Regions from separate parts of the Homo sapiens genome. Here region 2 is linked to region 1. Evidence: fine-mapped expression QTL. A gene starts in region 1. The other region holds a variant in brackets. All regions are shown on one strand. Distances are between the middles of the regions.

Region 1 (8,248 bases):
ACTTAGGGCAAGAAAATTTTTATTTTCAGAAAATTCTAAACAATATATTGTCTCTGGATACTTCAGCTTTTAAGTTTCTGCATAACTATCATAATTTTACCACAGCGTTGAGCTCTTACTAGGTGTCTCTTAACATTAGACTTTCTTAATATTAGGCTAAACCCTCATTCTAAGAAATATACAGGTTAGTCAGGATATCATGGTTGGTCCCTTTTTTTTTTTTTTTTTTAAACGGGAGTTTTGCTGTTATTGCCCGGGCTAGAGTGCATTAGCACAATCTCGGATCACTGCAACCTCCGCCTTCCAGTTTCAAGCGATTCTCCTGCCTCAGCCTCCCAAGTCGCTGGGATTACAGGCACCCGCCACCACACTCAGTTAATTTTTTGTATGTTTAGTAGAGACGGGGTTTCACCATGTTGGTCAGGCTGGTCTTGAACTGCTGACCTCGTGATCCACCCACCTCGGCCCCAAAGTGCTGGGATTACAGGCGTGAGCCACCGTGCTTGGCCCGGTTGGTCCTCTTAAAGCTAAAACTGATCTCATCTCCTCTCACTCCCCTCTCCCTCCCACAATTGCCATGTGTAAACCGTTCACCAGGTAAATTCCTTATCTACACATTTTCAGAATTCATTCATGGGTATAATTAGCAATAAACCTAAAATCTTTCTCAAAGCTTTTGTTATTGTGTGACTTACTGCAAAAATACAAACACAGGATGTAGAGGACTACTCCACCCAACTCTTGTAGACTCACCTATAGTTTTAAAAACACAATACTTGGTTCTAACCCTGGAGATTTCAACAGGGATGGGAAGGTAACAGCCATATACTTTTAGAGCTGTATAGGTTATCCTGACACCTCTACTGAAAAAAACCCTTGCTCTAACAGCAATTGGCTTCATACTCTTAAATGAGCTACCTATAATTTTAATACAAATCCATGTCCTAATTCTCTTTATTATTTTTTTGAGATAGGGTCTTGCTGTTGCCCAGGCTGGAGTACAGTGGCTCAATCTCTGCTCACTGCCACCTCCACCTCCCCAGTTCAAGCGATTCTCCTGCCTCAGCCACCCTAGTAGCTGGTATTACAGGCGCACGCCACCACACCTGGCTAACTTTTCTATTTCTTGGAGATGGGGTTTCGCCATGTTGGCCAGGCTGGTCTTGAACTCCTGGCCCCAAGTGATGTGCCCATCTCGGCCTCCCAAAGTGCTAGGATTACAGGTGTCAGCCACTGTGCCTGGCCCTAATTCTTTTTTGAGAGATGAAAAGCTTTACCTCCTCTAGATATTCCTAATTCCACTTTAACAATATTTTCCTAAGTTGTGGTGTTTCTATGGGACACTGTTATTTTTTCAGAAGCTGGCCTCCCCAACTCCTCAAATATCAATTTTATAAATAAAATTTATAATGAGTGCAGGATTTTTTCATCTTTATGGTCAGATGTCCATTAGATACAAGGATAGAAAAACTTCAAACTACCCAAACACATGACAAATTATAGAAATCACTGTATTCTAGAGGTATCACTTCTCAAACACAAGCTTTCTTTCTTTTTTAAAAACAGACATAGTCTCACTGTTGTCCAGATTGGAGTACAGTGACACAATCATAGCTCACTGCAGCCTCAAACTAATGGGATCAAGTGATCCTCCTGCCTCAGCCTCCCAAGTAGCTAAGCCTACTGGCATGCACTACTATGCCCAGCTCACACAGAAGGTTTCTGAGTAATCTGTTGCTCTTTTTCCCTACAATTTGTCTTCCATATAACTCAAACTGACAAGGCTATGGCTTACATAAAGAAATATATTATAAATCAACAACACTCATGATAAGTTTACATAAGACATGAGAATACACCTGAATCACCAACCGGGAAAAATGATTGAAGAGCTTGAAATTAAGCCTAAGTGTAAGTCTCTGTTAAGCTTACAACATTACAATAGTTAAATCGAAGGTTAGAAAGAAAATGGTAGACATTGCTCCTTTTCCTGTACTTACCACCATTACTTAGAGAAGTTTCTGAATAACAACAACTTTGAGCCTTTTTCATTGTTGTATTCATGGATGACACCAACACATACTACTTCTGCTTAAAAATCAAACTCATTCATCTTGACTTGTTCCCAGAAACATGACACAGAAGATCATTTTTTGAAAAAGTATTTTTGTAATTACCATCTGCATACACCTGAGAGACTGTTTCTAACATGTTTTGGTCATTTTTAATCATTCTATCTGCCTTTCTTTGTTATAAGGATCTATTTTTAATTTTATTCACTCCTAACATAGAGGGGAAGTGCATACCTTCAATGACGCAAAGTAACTAGTTAATGTTGTTTCAGAATAATATGCAAAAGGGAAGGGAGGAAACAGCACAAAGTATATCATATTTTTACACATCAGACACCTTCAGGAAGAAAGGACATTTCTCATCTTAGTGTGACAGACTCTGAAAAAGAACACACAGCACTGTTTCAGTGACACAAGAAAAAAAGTACAGTTCATTTTGAGATACTGTGCAAAATCACTCAAAAGACAATTAACTTTGGTTTCAGTCACTTAGTTAAAAAAAAAATTTATCCATGACCGATGTTACTCTGGAATCTATTGCCAGACGTCAGAAGGCCTATCATCAATAATATCCCACCCCTCCCGCCTTTTCTGAGACACGGGCTTGCTGTCGCCCAGGCTGGAGCACAGTGGTAGGATCGAGGCTCACTGCAGCCTCAACATCCCGGGCTCAAGCGATCCTCCCACCTCAGCCTCTAGTGTAGCTGCAACTACAGGGGTACACCACCATGCCCAGCTAATTTTTTTGTTTAATGTTTTTGTAGAGACGGTACGGGGTCTCCGCATGTTGCCCAGGCTGGGGTTGAACTCCTAGAATCACGCTATCTCCCCGCGTCTGCCCCCAAAGTGCTGGGATTAAAGGCGTGAGCGACCGCACCTGGCCAATATCCCCTTTGAACATCTGCTTTCGCTGGTTGGTAAAAAAGTGTCATTTTAAATTTAGTGTTACTCCTTCAGGCTATTCCCTCTCTCTTCTTACTTGCAGGGCCAAAGCAACGTCTCTTTCCACCTTGGTCACCTTCCAACAACGATTTCTTCGGACGCCTTTGTTAATCATTCCTGTATGAAAAATCAGTGAATCTGAAGCTTTGGGGAGAGTGAAAGGGGGTTGGAAAACAAACGGCAAAACAAAAATGCATTTCGGAGGACTACCCCAACTCTGTGGGTGGAAGTGGGCTTCTCCGAATAAAGGCGAGGGTCGCCGCCTCGGGTCCTCGCACCTCAACAAAAGACACCAACTCTCTCAACTGTACTGTTAACAGATCTAAATGATACTCCAAGCCCAAAAGTAAACCGACTCTCTCAATCTCTTAGCTAAAAAATGGAGAAGGAAGCGTAGGGCCCCATGCAACCCCTTCAGGAGCTGAGACCGAGGCTCACTGGGCCTCTGGATGCCGCTTCCAGTCGGTCCCGCCCTACATCAGTCCCCAGCATGGCCTCCACCCTCTGGTTCCCAGGTTCGTGCCCGCGGCTATCCGACCAGATCGTCCTCCACCTCACCGTCCCCACTGAACCACCACTTGACTCCTGCGCACCCCTAAAACCTCTGCCCGGCTCCGCGGAATCGTCCCAGTACTCCTAACATGGCGGCCGAGTCCCCTTTGCTCCTTCACTCTGGGCGCGTCCCACTTGGAGCATTTTGGGCATTGTAGTTTCGGGGATTGCCTGGGTATCCCTTCAGGACGTAAGAAGACTACAGTTCCCAGAAAGCACCGCTCCCGAGCATGGCTATTGGGGACGTTTGGACAGAGGGATGATGTCATTGCAAAAGCCCCACTGCATTCATTGTGCTACGGTCTCTCCACCCCCTGCTGCTGCTGGGCTTGCGATTGCCGCTCGCTCCAGCTGAGCTAAGTGTAGCAGCAGCACCAGGGCAGGGACTGACTCCAGCCCTTGGACTCAGGACATCGCAGACCTTCCCTTGCGTGCGTGACTCATTCGCACATCCATTTCTGTTTATGCCTGGGGTGGGGAGAAAAATCCCAAACCAGGTGAGTTGAAGTGATTTATTCAAATGCTTCTACCAAGTTATTCCTCCCGCTTAGTTCTCAAGGCTTTCTTTTGGGAAGCTGTGAGCGGTGGGGAGGTGGGGGGGATTGGGGAGAGGCTTGCAGGCACAGCTAAGGGGAAAAGCTCTGTGCCATTTGGGTCACTGCAAAGAACAACTCCAGCAACCTTCCCCCGCCAGAGGACGGGTGCCTGCCAATTCCCTAGTCGCAACTCCTCTCAACCTTTTTGAGGCGGAGAGAGGGGGCTGGGCTGGGAAGGATGTTGGGGAGTGCTCTTGGAAAATCTGAGGAAGGCAGAGGTGGGGGACTGCAGTCCTGTCACACACGGCCCGAGAGCTGAGGTTTGAGTGGGAAGGGGTGATGCGTGGGGAGAAATGGAGACAGTGAATTAATGTGGTCGCACTACTTTAGAACATTTGAATGTCGCTTGGACGAGCACTAGTTATTAATTTTTAAGATGAACGTGCTTAAGTTTTGTAGGGCTTTATTTTATGTGTGTATGTCTATGTGGTTTGTCTCGCCTTTTCTGCTGATTTGAGGTGACAGTGTCCTTTAATGGTGCACTCCGTGCCAGTCAGAAACATTTCACGTGTCTGGCGAAGGTTCTTTCAGGCTGCTGGAAGCAGCGTTTTTGTTAAATGTTTTCCGTTCTCCGACTGCTGGATTCAAGATTGTTTGGAAGTGGAGCCGACAGATTTGTGCTTGTGTGTTTTAAATTACATTGCATAGGCTCTTTGCCACTGACAATGGTACCATAATGAGCTGCTGTTTCCTGAGGCATAGTCACTACTCACAAATAACGGTTTGAAGAGATCGATTAGGGAAGAGGGGTTCATTTTAACACATTAGAGAAAGGGAAAGTTAGAAGCGCTGTTAACCTTCATTTGCCATTACTGAAAGGTGCCCATGGAAGAGTGATTTTGGTTGTTTTGTTATTGTTGTTTTTTTAAACGAACTGACATTTAACAGGAGAGAAAGCATTCTGACTTACATGATGCTCTTGTAAGAGTTATAGGGATAATTAGGGCAATAGATATGTTACTTTGAGATAAACAGCTGGCTGGCTCCACAACAGATGGGGCCAGTCTTGGCTGAGAGATCTACACCCTTGGAAATGAATGGGCCTGGGGTCAACCACACCCCCTCTTGGAATGTCAAAAGAAGGAGAAATGCCAGAGTATTTGCTTAACTCTAGAATGCTAAACCTTTTCCTAGCTGAGTCAGACATGGGCGAAATTCTTTACTGGCTGTCTTCTGCTGCTAAGCCAATTTTGTTCATTTTAAATTCAGATCCTTAGGTCTCCAAAGTTGTAGCTGTGTGATATTTCATTAAATGCTGCTTGATGCTGAATGCAAAGGACAGTCCATTGTATGGGCTTTGTAGTAGAGTGATTTATTGGGATGCCAATGAGCAGCTTTTGGATTTGGGAAAAGATCAACAGTTAGCCTTTGCCTCTGCGTCTCTCTGTTGATGACGCTCTGCTCTTCTGGACACCCTACCCTTCTCTCCTGTACTTTCATTTCTTCCCCCCACCCCACCCCATCCCACCCACATCTCTTGAAATTCTGTTTATTTCTCTATCTCTCCATTTGCAGTTTACATTTTTCCTTTCTGTTTCAAAACCCCTCCTTTATCACCAGCATATCACATCTCTTTCTCTTCAATCTTAGAACACACTCCCTGGTCCTCCACTTCAACTAGGAACTCCTGGGTGGATGTAGACTATGTGAATATTTTTGCAGAATCCTCTTTGAAGAGAATTTCTTTGCCTTTTCTTTTTCTTGCAGTCTGTGCTTGGCAGGATGAGCAGCAATGAGCCTGACCCCTGGTCTGGTTTGTAGTTCCTGTGACAGACATAATTTAGCCCCAGCAGCATGTGAACAATGAAATGCTGCAGTTGGGCTCATGCCACTTTTCCTTTCACTGGCACCTGCCTATGGATTAGCAAGGTTTTTAAATGCTCTACATGAAATGTTCTCATAATTCCCAAGGAATAAGTAGTCTTCAAGTGGCTTGCCTTATACAATACATTTTTTTTTTCCTTATCCTTGCTGCAGCTGGTGGTGGGAAGGCTGATCTTTCCCCCCTCTTTCTTCCTGTTCCCTGTGGATTGCTGAGTAGCAATCCAGGTGGCCAAACTGCCCATTTGGTTTTTTGAAGATACTTGGAGGACAACAGTTCCCCACCCACCCTGGTTGTTTCTTCTCCTCTGTGCAGGAAAGAAGTTTGTTATTTTATTCTCTTCTCTTAACGGGAAGAGTGTGATAGTGGCTATATTTGTTTATGTAACAGCAGTGCTCCTCTAGGTGTGGAAAGTCTAACTGCTATCCATCTGGAGGCAACTAGTGTAACAGGCAGATTCAGAAGCTGTCCTCTTAGACCTTTTATGCACCATCTTCTCATTCCTAATTTTCTTCTTCTGAAATACTTCCTTACCCACCAAAGTTTCTTTTATTGTCCTAGGGAGGAGAAATGGGCTGAATGTAGTGTTAGATTTGGCCTCATCACTGCTGTCTCTGGGACCTTAAATAACTATTCATTTCTTTCTGCTTCGGTTTACTTATTTGCAAAGGGATAATGATCCTTGCTCTTTGGTTTACTGATGTTATAGCCCTCTATAATCTGGCCCCAACCTATAATTCTGACAATTTATATTGATTGAGCAGCTACCATGTACTAAGCACTGTGGATACATCAGTGAAAACAAATGCTTTCCCTGACTTCATGGAGCTTATATTCTAATAGGGGATATACTTAATAAATAATTGCAAGTGTGATGAATGCCATTTCCAAAAGGGTTGGGTAGGAGTGCCTGACATGGTACTTTCCCCTTGTCTAGGGTTATCAGGAAAGGTTTCCTATAGGAAGTGACACTTCAAGAGACTTGGAGGGTAAACGGAAGTAGTAATTCAGGATGGCAGTGGGAGATGCTTATAGTGGGACAAAGGTTTCTGGCAGAGGGAACTTCATGTTCAAAGTTCAAAGGGAAGAGTGGTGAACCTGAGGATTTGAAAGGAAGTTAGAGACAGAGCAAGAGGAGAAAGACTAGAATGAAGAATGAGGCTGGAGAGGTGGGCAGAGGCTAGAGAGTAGGCAGTTCTTTGAGCTACAGGTGTATTTTGGTCTTTATCCTAAGGCTAATGAGAACCTAGCCTGGCTTTAAAAAACTAGATGAATGGCATATGTAGGATGATATTAAAATATTATCCTGGCTGTTAAGTAGAGGAGATTGAAGGAAAGACTTGGTCAGAGTGAATGTGTAGAGACCAAGTAGCAAATAATTTTTGTCGTCTGTATGAGGGATGATGGTGCTTAGATCTAGGGTGGTGACAGAGGGTTTAGAGAGACACTAAGTTTTTTGTTTTTTTTTTTTGAGACAGAGTTTTGCTCTTGTTGCCCTTGCTGGAGTACAATGGCGCAATCTCGGCTCATTGCAACCTCCGCCTCCCAGGTTCAAGCAGTTCTCCTGCCTCAGCCTCCCTATTGTCTGGGATTACAGGTGCCCGCCACCATGCTCAGCTAACGTTTGTATTTTTTTTTTTTTTTTTGAGACAGAGTCTCACTCTGTCGCCCAGGCTGAAGTGCAGTGGCATGATCACAGCTCACTGCAGCCTCCATCTCTGGATTCAAGCGATTCTCCTGCCTCAGCCTCCCAAGTAGTTGAGATTACAGGCACCCACCACTCCCAGCTAATTTTTATATATTTAGTAGAGATAGGGTCTCACCATGCTGGCCAGGCTGATCTCTCAAACTCCTGACCTCAAATGGTCCACCCGCCTCAGCCTCCCAAAGTGCTGGGACTACAGGCGTGAGCCACCGCACCTGGCAACTTTTGTATTTTTAGTAGAGATGGGGTTTCACCATGTTGGCCAGGCTGGTCTCGAACTCCTGACCTCAGGTGATCCACCTGCCTCTGCCTCCCAAAGTTCTGGGATTACAAGCATGAGCCACCATGCCCGGCCGACACTAACTTTGAAAATTGTAATTGATAAGATTTGTTGATTGATTGGATGGGGGGATAGGGAGAAAAGGGAGTCATGAAATGACTTGAGTTTTTTTCTTGAGCAACTGGGGATGACGTTTTCAGAGAAAGAGAACACTGAATGGGAACCAGGTCTTTTTGTTTTCCGAAGGGAGGACCTTTGGACATGCTGAGTTTGAGGTTC
Region 2 (8,406 bases), 280 kb after region 1:
GAACCTGGAACAGTCCTCTATTATCACACTTCTCACACTGACTTTGATCAAGTCAGTTTTCTATGTGGAGTGGACTATATGGATTTTGCATATATGTATCTTCTGGCAGGAGTGGGAAGCTGGACTGCTGAGCTGGCTCTGGAGGGATGCTCCCAGAGTACCCAGGACTGAGGCAGTTAATTTGCCCCACTGGTGAGGAGGAAATTTCTTGTAAAAGCTAGCTCCCCTCAGAACAAAGTGGCCTTTTATTTTTTAGCTTTGGAAAGGAGCCTAGCTGTCCATGGAAACAAAGAGAGGAGAGAATCACTGAACCAGTCTTGCACATAAAAAACCTACCATGCCTGTCTTTGAAGTCTCCTTTATGTCATTTAGAAAACTTTGGATTATAGGAGTGTTTTTTCCTCCTTTTTTTCCTCAGTTCCTCACCCACCCCAATTTTTTTTTTTCAGAGAAAAGAGAGAACTGGGTATAAGAGAACCTTTCTTTGAAACAGGGCAGAAGTCATTAATTAAGGTTCCCATTCATTCCTGCTGACACTTGCTCATCAATCAGATTTCCTCTTAGCATTCTGATGACCTTGCTGACCTTGGTCCTCCATGCTGTCTGCTAGACAGAATTGAGACTCAGACCACACACACCAGAACTGAGGGAATGGGCTCTGACTCTCGGCTTCCTGAGATGGAGGAGAAAGGGTCTGGGGACAAAGCTGGCTGGTCCGGAGCTCTTCTGGCTGAGGTGAAGGTGAATAAAGAAGACATTTTCTTTGCGGAAGCAAGTGTTGCTTACTTCACACAAGCAGTGATCTATAGCTGCCCTTCTCTTTTTCCCCAGAACCCAGGGCCAGCCATGGAGCTTGGAGCCCAGCCAGCTGAGCCCAGGAAACAAGGCTAGCAATTTCTCTCTGCTAACTCAGCACTGCTGAAAGAAGTTAACAGCTCTAGTCTTCTCTCAGAAAAGTACAGGAAACTGTTCTGGAGATGGGGGTGGCATCTGGGACTAGTCAGCCTAAGGTGTGGGACTTTTATTTCATTACTTGTGCCTTTATTCATTCATTAAATATACATTTACCTGGCAGCCACTGTGTATACTAGGCAAATTTTATGTTATGTATAGTTTATCACAATTTAAAAAAAGAATTAAAAAATTATGTGTGTAGATAAACTTGGAAACACAAAAAACACTTGCTACATTACTGGGGGTAGTAAGGTTGTGGGTAAATTTCTTCTACATGTCTGGTGCTAGAAAGTATTTGCAAAGCATAAAAACCTTAAAGAAAAAAATGGACAAAAAACTAAAATAGATTTTTCTAGAAAAAACCTATATACACAAATGGTTAACAAATGCATGAAAAGATATTCAATATCATTAGCCATTAGGAAAATGCAAATCAAAATCATATGATACTACTTCAAACACATAAGATGGCTATGATAACAAAATGACAAAAAGTGGAAAATAGCATATGCTAGCAAAGGTGGGGGAAAATCAAAACTTTCATACATGACTGGTGAGAATATATTAATAAGATGGTGCAACTGCTTTGGAATTACCGAAAAGGAGAAGAGATTTTCTGGAATGATGCCTTTTTAACTAAGGGAGTGGGGACGGCATCTCATATACAAGTGGACAGGTTGGCCTGAAGTAGGAGTAAAGACAATCCATTCACAGTAACGAGAAGGAAGGAGGCGAATGTGGGCACAGACAAATGCATTAGGTCAAATGTAGTGATGCAACTTCTGAAAGTTCTATGTGACTGTTGCTATTTCCTCAGTGAAGAAAGTGGAAGAGTGAATGGATCTGGAAGATGATTCCTGAGCAGTTACAAGGGCCTGCTTGAGCTTAAAGTAATGGACTTAAAATCAGACTGGTCAGCATGGTTGTGTGTTGATCTTCAGCCAGGTTCAGCTGCTCAGGTGTAGGCTGGGAGTGAAGAGGTGAATCTCACTGAGGTTGGAGCTTTTCAAGAAGAGTATAATAAAGCAAGAAAGGGAAAATATAGTTGAAGAGAGAAATTATGATGATGAGAATATGCTCTAAGCTAGATATGGAAGGGAGGGGAGTGAAGCCTCCACAGGTACTGATAGTTGGGGCGAGGGGGTGGTGAAAAGGAGTGGTATCTGTAGATTGGAGGTCTCTGTGGGGTCAAAAACTTGCTGGAATTGGGACACTCAAACTGGAAAGATAAGAGGGGGGATGATCAGAGAGTGGGTTGCTTGAAACTCAAATTAGGTAAAATTTGCAAGTATTGGGAATAATAAGGTGCAGTACATGACCATGGGAATGATGGCTAGACGAGGGTGTGAGACAATGGAGGAGATGAGGTCAATGAATACATGAGCCAGGATACAGGGAGGAAGAGCTGCATGATTATTTAAATTATGTCTCAGTGAAATTATTGATTTAAACTAAATGAGAGCAAAAGTGAGATATAATCTTCAAGAAATGAGGGAGCATGACTTAGAGGTCAGTAGATGACAGCAATGAAGTGGGAATAGGGGATTGTATAGCCTGGTGATGTGATTAAAAGCAGAGTGTTAAGGCAGAGGGGTGAAGTGGTCAACAAGCATCAAGATGGGCAAGGAAAACTTTTACCCCCACCAGGGATCTGTGTGGTACAAGGAGTTTGGAGATAAAACAGCAACCACTTGAGAGGGTTTCTGGAGAAGCAATGTCCTCCTGGGAGAGTCAGATGTCTGTTAGACCAAGAAGGCCAAGGGAGAGTACAAGATTGAAGATGTATGGGATTTGCTGATGACTGGCTCTGATTTCCAGGGGGATATAGCGGAAGCGTTTCCTCAGACATCTCCCCAGGTAGATGGCATCAGAAAAGTGAATATAGCAAGCCAAATGGGGATAAGAGCCCAGAGGACAAGGAAGCTCCACACTCTTTTTGGTGTCTGACTTAAGTAGATGTAAACGGCATATGAGGTAACCCTGATGGTCTCCAGGCAGGAGGGGTGTAGGCTGTGAGTGCTGGAGGGACAGGGAGGAGAGAGAGTGAGGGTCCTGTCAGGGGCACAGAACTCAAAAGAGGGGTGGTCTTTTCTGGATCAACCCAAACTCTGAGGCACTCTTCTTACTTATATGGCACAAGGTGCTCTGAGGCTTTCTCCTGACTCGATTGGTGGATGTTTCTGGTGAAACTGGGCTGCAGTTAGTTGTTTAAAACCATCTGTTGACATTTATTCCAGACCTGCTTTGGCTCCCCTTATGAACCAGGATGTTGGAAAGTAGCCTGGCAGGCTCACTCCTAAATTTGGCCTTTAAAATGGTGAATAACTCAGTTTGGTTGAAGATAATCACAGGATTACTAATAGATCATTCGTGGCAGGATGTAAGTCAGTCAGGATATCCTTGATTCTGGGATGTCTGGCAAAGCGCTGGGAGTAAGAGCTCATTGAATCCTAGTGTGCTCTTTGGGCCAGGTCTGCTAGTGGTGTATACTATACACCTTTCTAAAAGTGTATTGGGCATCATACTTTTTGGACTATTCAGATTATTTTTAATATATTATAAATCTTGCTGCTTTGTAGCTCTTCACTCAATGACTCAATGTCATCATCTGTCACTGCAAGAGTAGATACCACCATAGCAAAATGTCCATTACTCAGAATTCAGCTTCACCCCTGAATTCTTCCATGAATTTCTAGTAAAACAACGGTTTTGAGATCAGACATTTTTGACAGAAAAGATTGATTTTTTTCCTTTTTTATTTTTTTTTTGAGATGGTGTTATTGCTCTGTTGCCAATGCTGGTCTCAAAGTCCCATATTCAAGCAGTCTTCCTGCCTCAGCCTACCAAGTAGCGACAGGGATGCACCATTTTGCCCGGCCAGGATTGATTTTTTAAGTCTTAAGCTATCTTTACATACCAAAAGCATTGCTTGAATTTCTATTTATTTATTTTTGAATTTTTCAACAAGCTCATTTAAATGTAGCTAGTGATTTTTAGTTTTTGTTTTGTTCTGTTTTGTTTTGTTTTGTTTTTTTTTGTTTTGTTTTGAGACAGGATCTAGCTCTGTCACCCAGGCTGGAGTGCAGTGATGCAATCACAGCTCCCTGCAGGCTTGACCTCCTGGGCTCAAGAGATCCTCCTATCTCAGCCTCCCGAGTAGTTGGGACTACAGGCATGTGCTACCACGCACAGCTAATTTTTATTTTTTGTGGAGACAGGGTCTCACTATGTTGCCCTGGCTGGTCTGGAACTCCTGGGCTCAAGCAATCCTCCTGCCTTGGCTTCCCAAAGTGGTGGGATTACAGGCATGAGTCACTGCACTGGCCTGGACTTTTTGATTACAATCTATGGTAACAAATATATTTTTTGTTATCACTCAACACACACACACACACACACACACACACACACACACACACACACA[TACAC/C]ACATTCATGTAAAATTGTAATAAAAATTTCAGATGCCCTCTGATTGACACTTTTTATTGTGTTTTAGATTTTATTTCTAAAAATCTGGTCTTGGCCTGCTAAATTGATTTTATGACACATTAGTAAAGTATAATTTTAAAAATTACTATAAACCATAATACAAGGAATGCTCAGGGTACATAGGAAAAGGCTCTGACTCATGAGAAATAACTAGAGAAATCCCACCTCTTCTGGCATTGTTAATCTTAGAAGGAGGAGAGAGAGCATGGTAGGGTAAGACAGACGAACACCAGCGTCCTCATTTTCCCCTCTTTTTAGGGTATAACTTTGAGGTGTGTGTGTATATGTGTTTGTGTGAGGGATGTGTGTGTGTGTGTGTTTATGTGTGTGCACCATGGAAGTCTTCAGAGAGGCATAAGACAACTGAAGGCATTAGAAATACTGGCCTGGGTCCAGGGCTTAGGGACGCAGCAAGCCTCTAGAAGAAGTTGTGCATTCTGGTTAGCACTGAGCCTAAGCTGAGGCAGAAGCTGTACAGTGCAGCAGTGGCTGACAAGTGGTCTAGATAGATAGTGTAAGATAGTACTGCTGATTGCCCTGGTCTGTGCAGGACGCACAGGGAATTCGAAAGTTTCTGCTTGGTTTGGTGATGGGGCTCAGATGTGCCAAGGAGATTAGTGGACTAGCCGAGCTGGGCTTGAGATAAAGAAAAGATCACATAGAGGCCAGGTGCAGTGGCACACACCTGTAACCCCAGCACTTTGGGAGGCAGAGGCAAGTGGATCACTTGAGGCTAGGAGTTCAAGACTAGCCTGGCCAACATGGCAAAACCCTGTCTCTACTAAAAATACAAACATTAGCCAGGCATGGTGGCACATGCCTATAATCCCAGCTACTCGGGTGGCTGAGGCAGGAGTACCACTTGAACCCGGGAGGCAGAGGCTGCAGTGAGCTGAGACTGCGCCACTGCACTCCAGTCTGGGAGACAGAGCAAGATGCTGTCTCAAAAAAAAAAAAAAAAAAGAAGGAAATAAAGATCACATAGGAGTTTTGCAACCCAGCCAAATGACTAGTACTAAGAATTTCAAAAGCAGTAGATACAGTATGATAACCGTAAAAGATATGATGGAATCAGCAACACCTCATCGTGTCCCAGTCTAGAGGCCAAATGAGAGTACAATATAAGGAACTTTCTGGAGAAATGTGAGGACCCTGCTCTTCAACTGCGGCAAGTCCAGGTAAGCTCCTCCTCACTGACCCAAATGCCATTTCTAGGTGGATCAGAGGAAGGGAGAGAAAGTCAAAAGAGCATTGACCCCAAAGACACCAACATACACAAAAGAGACTGTTAAACATGAAGAGAAAGAGATACCATGAATTGAAAAATTTGTCTTCTCTCTCCTGTAAGTTTTGAGGATAATTGGAGCAATTAAAGAAAATATGAAATAGTAGTTTGTTAAATTGCACCCTCGTTACAGGAGTACTAATTTCAAGATATTTTGTCTTAGTGACCTGGACAAGCATAATCATGCTTATCTCCACCTACCAACTGGGAAGTTTAGACAGCTTACCAATCACCCCAACTCAGAAGGTATGTGCCGTTGGCCTGATATCACCGATAAGAGTGCACAAACAAAAACATAAGGTAATGTGCCCAAGGCCCTGTAGCTGGTAATTGCTTATCTGCCTTCAGGCCTATGTGATTTCCTCTCCACCTTGCAGTCTTCTTCGGTGATCTAATTAGGCTATTGTCCCAGGCAACATGACAATTGGCAGTCACTGATTCCTTTGCTTTGTCCTAGGTCATACATAGGACAAAACAGAAAACAGGCAGATGATAATTTGATGAATACACTCAAAACCAGACTCTAGAGAGCCTTTAGATGCTCTTAATACTCACTTATGTTTAGTGCTTTATAGTTCACAAACCTTGTCACATTTCTTAGTTGACCTTTATGAAAATCTTGAAGCAGATGTTCCTATTATTCTCTCTCCACAGAAGAAGCAGCCAGGTCTTAGGAGGCCCAGGTAAGTTTCTGAAAGGCACAGTGAAGGAGTGGAACAGAAACCCTCAGCCAGATCATTTTACTCCTAGAGAAACGCACATCCACAGACTCTGCTGCCCTATTTAGGTCAAGGACAGGAAGATACTGGCAAAATGTTCTGTTATGTTACTATCTTCTTCTCTGCAAGTGGGCTACAGGCCCCTTGGCTCTCCCTCACATTCCCCTTCTTGTCCTCTGACTGGTGCTTATCTTAGTGTGTCTGGCTGTGATGTTCAGGACAAGTGGAGTCTGAATTTTTGACAGGTGATAAATGGCTATGGTTTCATTTCCCTCCCTCCAGTCTGAGGGTTGGCAAGCACTGCAGCTGGGAAGCAGCTGCCCAGAGCTGGGGTGTGGTGGGAGAGGGGCCTCCGGAGGATGCCTGGCTACAGGCTGATGCGGTTACACAGGCTCCTGCCTCCACAGCCTTTGAAAGAAGGTCTTGCGTGAACTCAGACCTGTCTTACCATCTGGTTAGGTATATTTTCCTCTCTGGTTTTGAGGAGTCAAGAGGTAGTTAAGGGATAAAGGACAAATGTTTCCCTGGTGACTAGAGACCTATCTTGGAGGCCTGAATAAACTGGCTTCCACATAAATGAAAAAACAAAAAGCTCTAAATGAATTGTAAACAGAAGAACTGATGTGTCTCTTATCAGTCTGCTGCCTGTAGACTTTGGCTGAGAGATAATCACCATGGTTAGTGAGGATCCTGGAAGCCAGTTATCATTCATTCCTAACTGTGTTCTCCCGCCATTGTTTTGGCATAATAAAACCCTAAAGAATATAAAATCCCCAGTGCTCTGCAGCATCGTGGCTTCTCTTTATGAACCATAACCTCCTCATCCTTTTCCCAGTTCTCCCCATCTGCTTGCAACCCCACGCCTACCAAGTGCAAGGGACAAGGAGGGGGCTGAGCAGGTGGCATTCTGGACCTCACACCTTCACTTCCATCAGAAGAGCTCTGCTCTCATCTGCTTTATGAAATGACCTACTGGGCACCATTTACTCCTAAGGTTTCCTCTGTGGCAAGGTGAAAACTGCCTGCTGTCAGATGTTCACCATCTTTAGCTACAACAGAAAGGGTTGGGGAAGAGAGTGAGGTGGGTGGATTCAGGCTTCCTGCTCTCCACTTACTGTATAAGTAGGCACAAATAATTGTTGGTGCTTACCATATGTTTTTCCCTCCAACTGTGACACAAGAAGGAAGGTGAGGAAGCCCTGGCACATCCTGTGTGTTCCAGTGTCTGAAACGTAACTAGCTGCCTTTTCTTGATCAGCCTAGTGTCTCATGTCCTCTTGCCTCAGCCTCCTGAGTAGATGGGACTACAGGCTTGCACCACTACACCTGGCTAGCATTTTATTATTTGCAGACACAGAGTCTAGCGATGTTGCCCAGGCTGGTCTTGAACTCCCGGTCTCAAGTGATCCTTTTGCCTCTGCCCCACAAAATGGTGGTATTATAGGCATGAGCCACCATGCCTGGCCCCTTGCTAGATCTTGATGGGCAAATTCTAGGAAGTTTCCTGCCTGAATTCTTGTTAGGAGGAGATAAACAGGAATGTGAACACTTAAGGAAAGCCCAGAGAAAATAGTAAAATCTCTATTAGGATTGAGAGATTGGGCTATACATAGAATTATTAGCAGGCACTGGGCCAAGTGCTGGAGCCCAGAGGTGATCAAGACCCAGTCTTTGCCTTCATGGTGCTCACAGGCCAGGTGCTCTTCATGGAAGAGAAGGCAACTTCCAAAGCAAATAGTTCCAATACAGTTTGCTCAGTGTTGTAATAGATCGCATATCAAAATCCATAGGAAGGAGAGAGTAATTGCTGAACGGTAAGCTTCATGAAGGTAAACATCCTGTCTGTCTTATTCACTACTATTTACCTAGGACATCGCAGGGTGCCTGGGATGTAATAGCTATTTATATGTATTTGTTAAATGGAATTGATTCATTTACTCCAGGTATATCAAATGGTTT

What was found. PIP is the estimated chance that this variant, and not a neighbour inherited with it, causes the effect.
Region 2: its variant is fine-mapped to the expression of RAB30-DT in subcutaneous fat (TwinsUK, PIP 0.95).

What each region holds. Positions count from the first base shown.
Region 1 is chr11:83,067,506-83,075,753 of GRCh38, reverse strand. It overlaps RAB30-DT (RAB30 divergent transcript), which reads right to left and starts at 3,688. Exons shown (of 3, transcript NR_038903.1): 1 at 3,608-3,688; 2 at 2,950-3,131; 3 at 2,042-2,451. RAB30 (RAB30, member RAS oncogene family) reads left to right here and starts at 3,857. Exons shown (of 5, transcript NM_001286060.2): 1 at 3,857-4,063. LINC02951 (long intergenic non-protein coding RNA 2951) reads left to right here. Exons shown (of 3, transcript NR_186233.1): 3 at 3,058-3,352. RefSeq lists enhancers at 3,415-3,904, 5,668-5,897, 5,918-5,967.
Region 2 is chr11:82,789,602-82,798,007 of GRCh38, reverse strand. It overlaps LINC02734 (long intergenic non-protein coding RNA 2734), which reads right to left. Exons shown (of 3, transcript NR_183631.1): 2 at 6,313-6,419. Among named protein-coding and RNA genes, the nearest start is that of LINC02734, 12 kb to the right of the region's middle. The variant TACAC/C (reference allele first, on the strand shown) is at 4,379.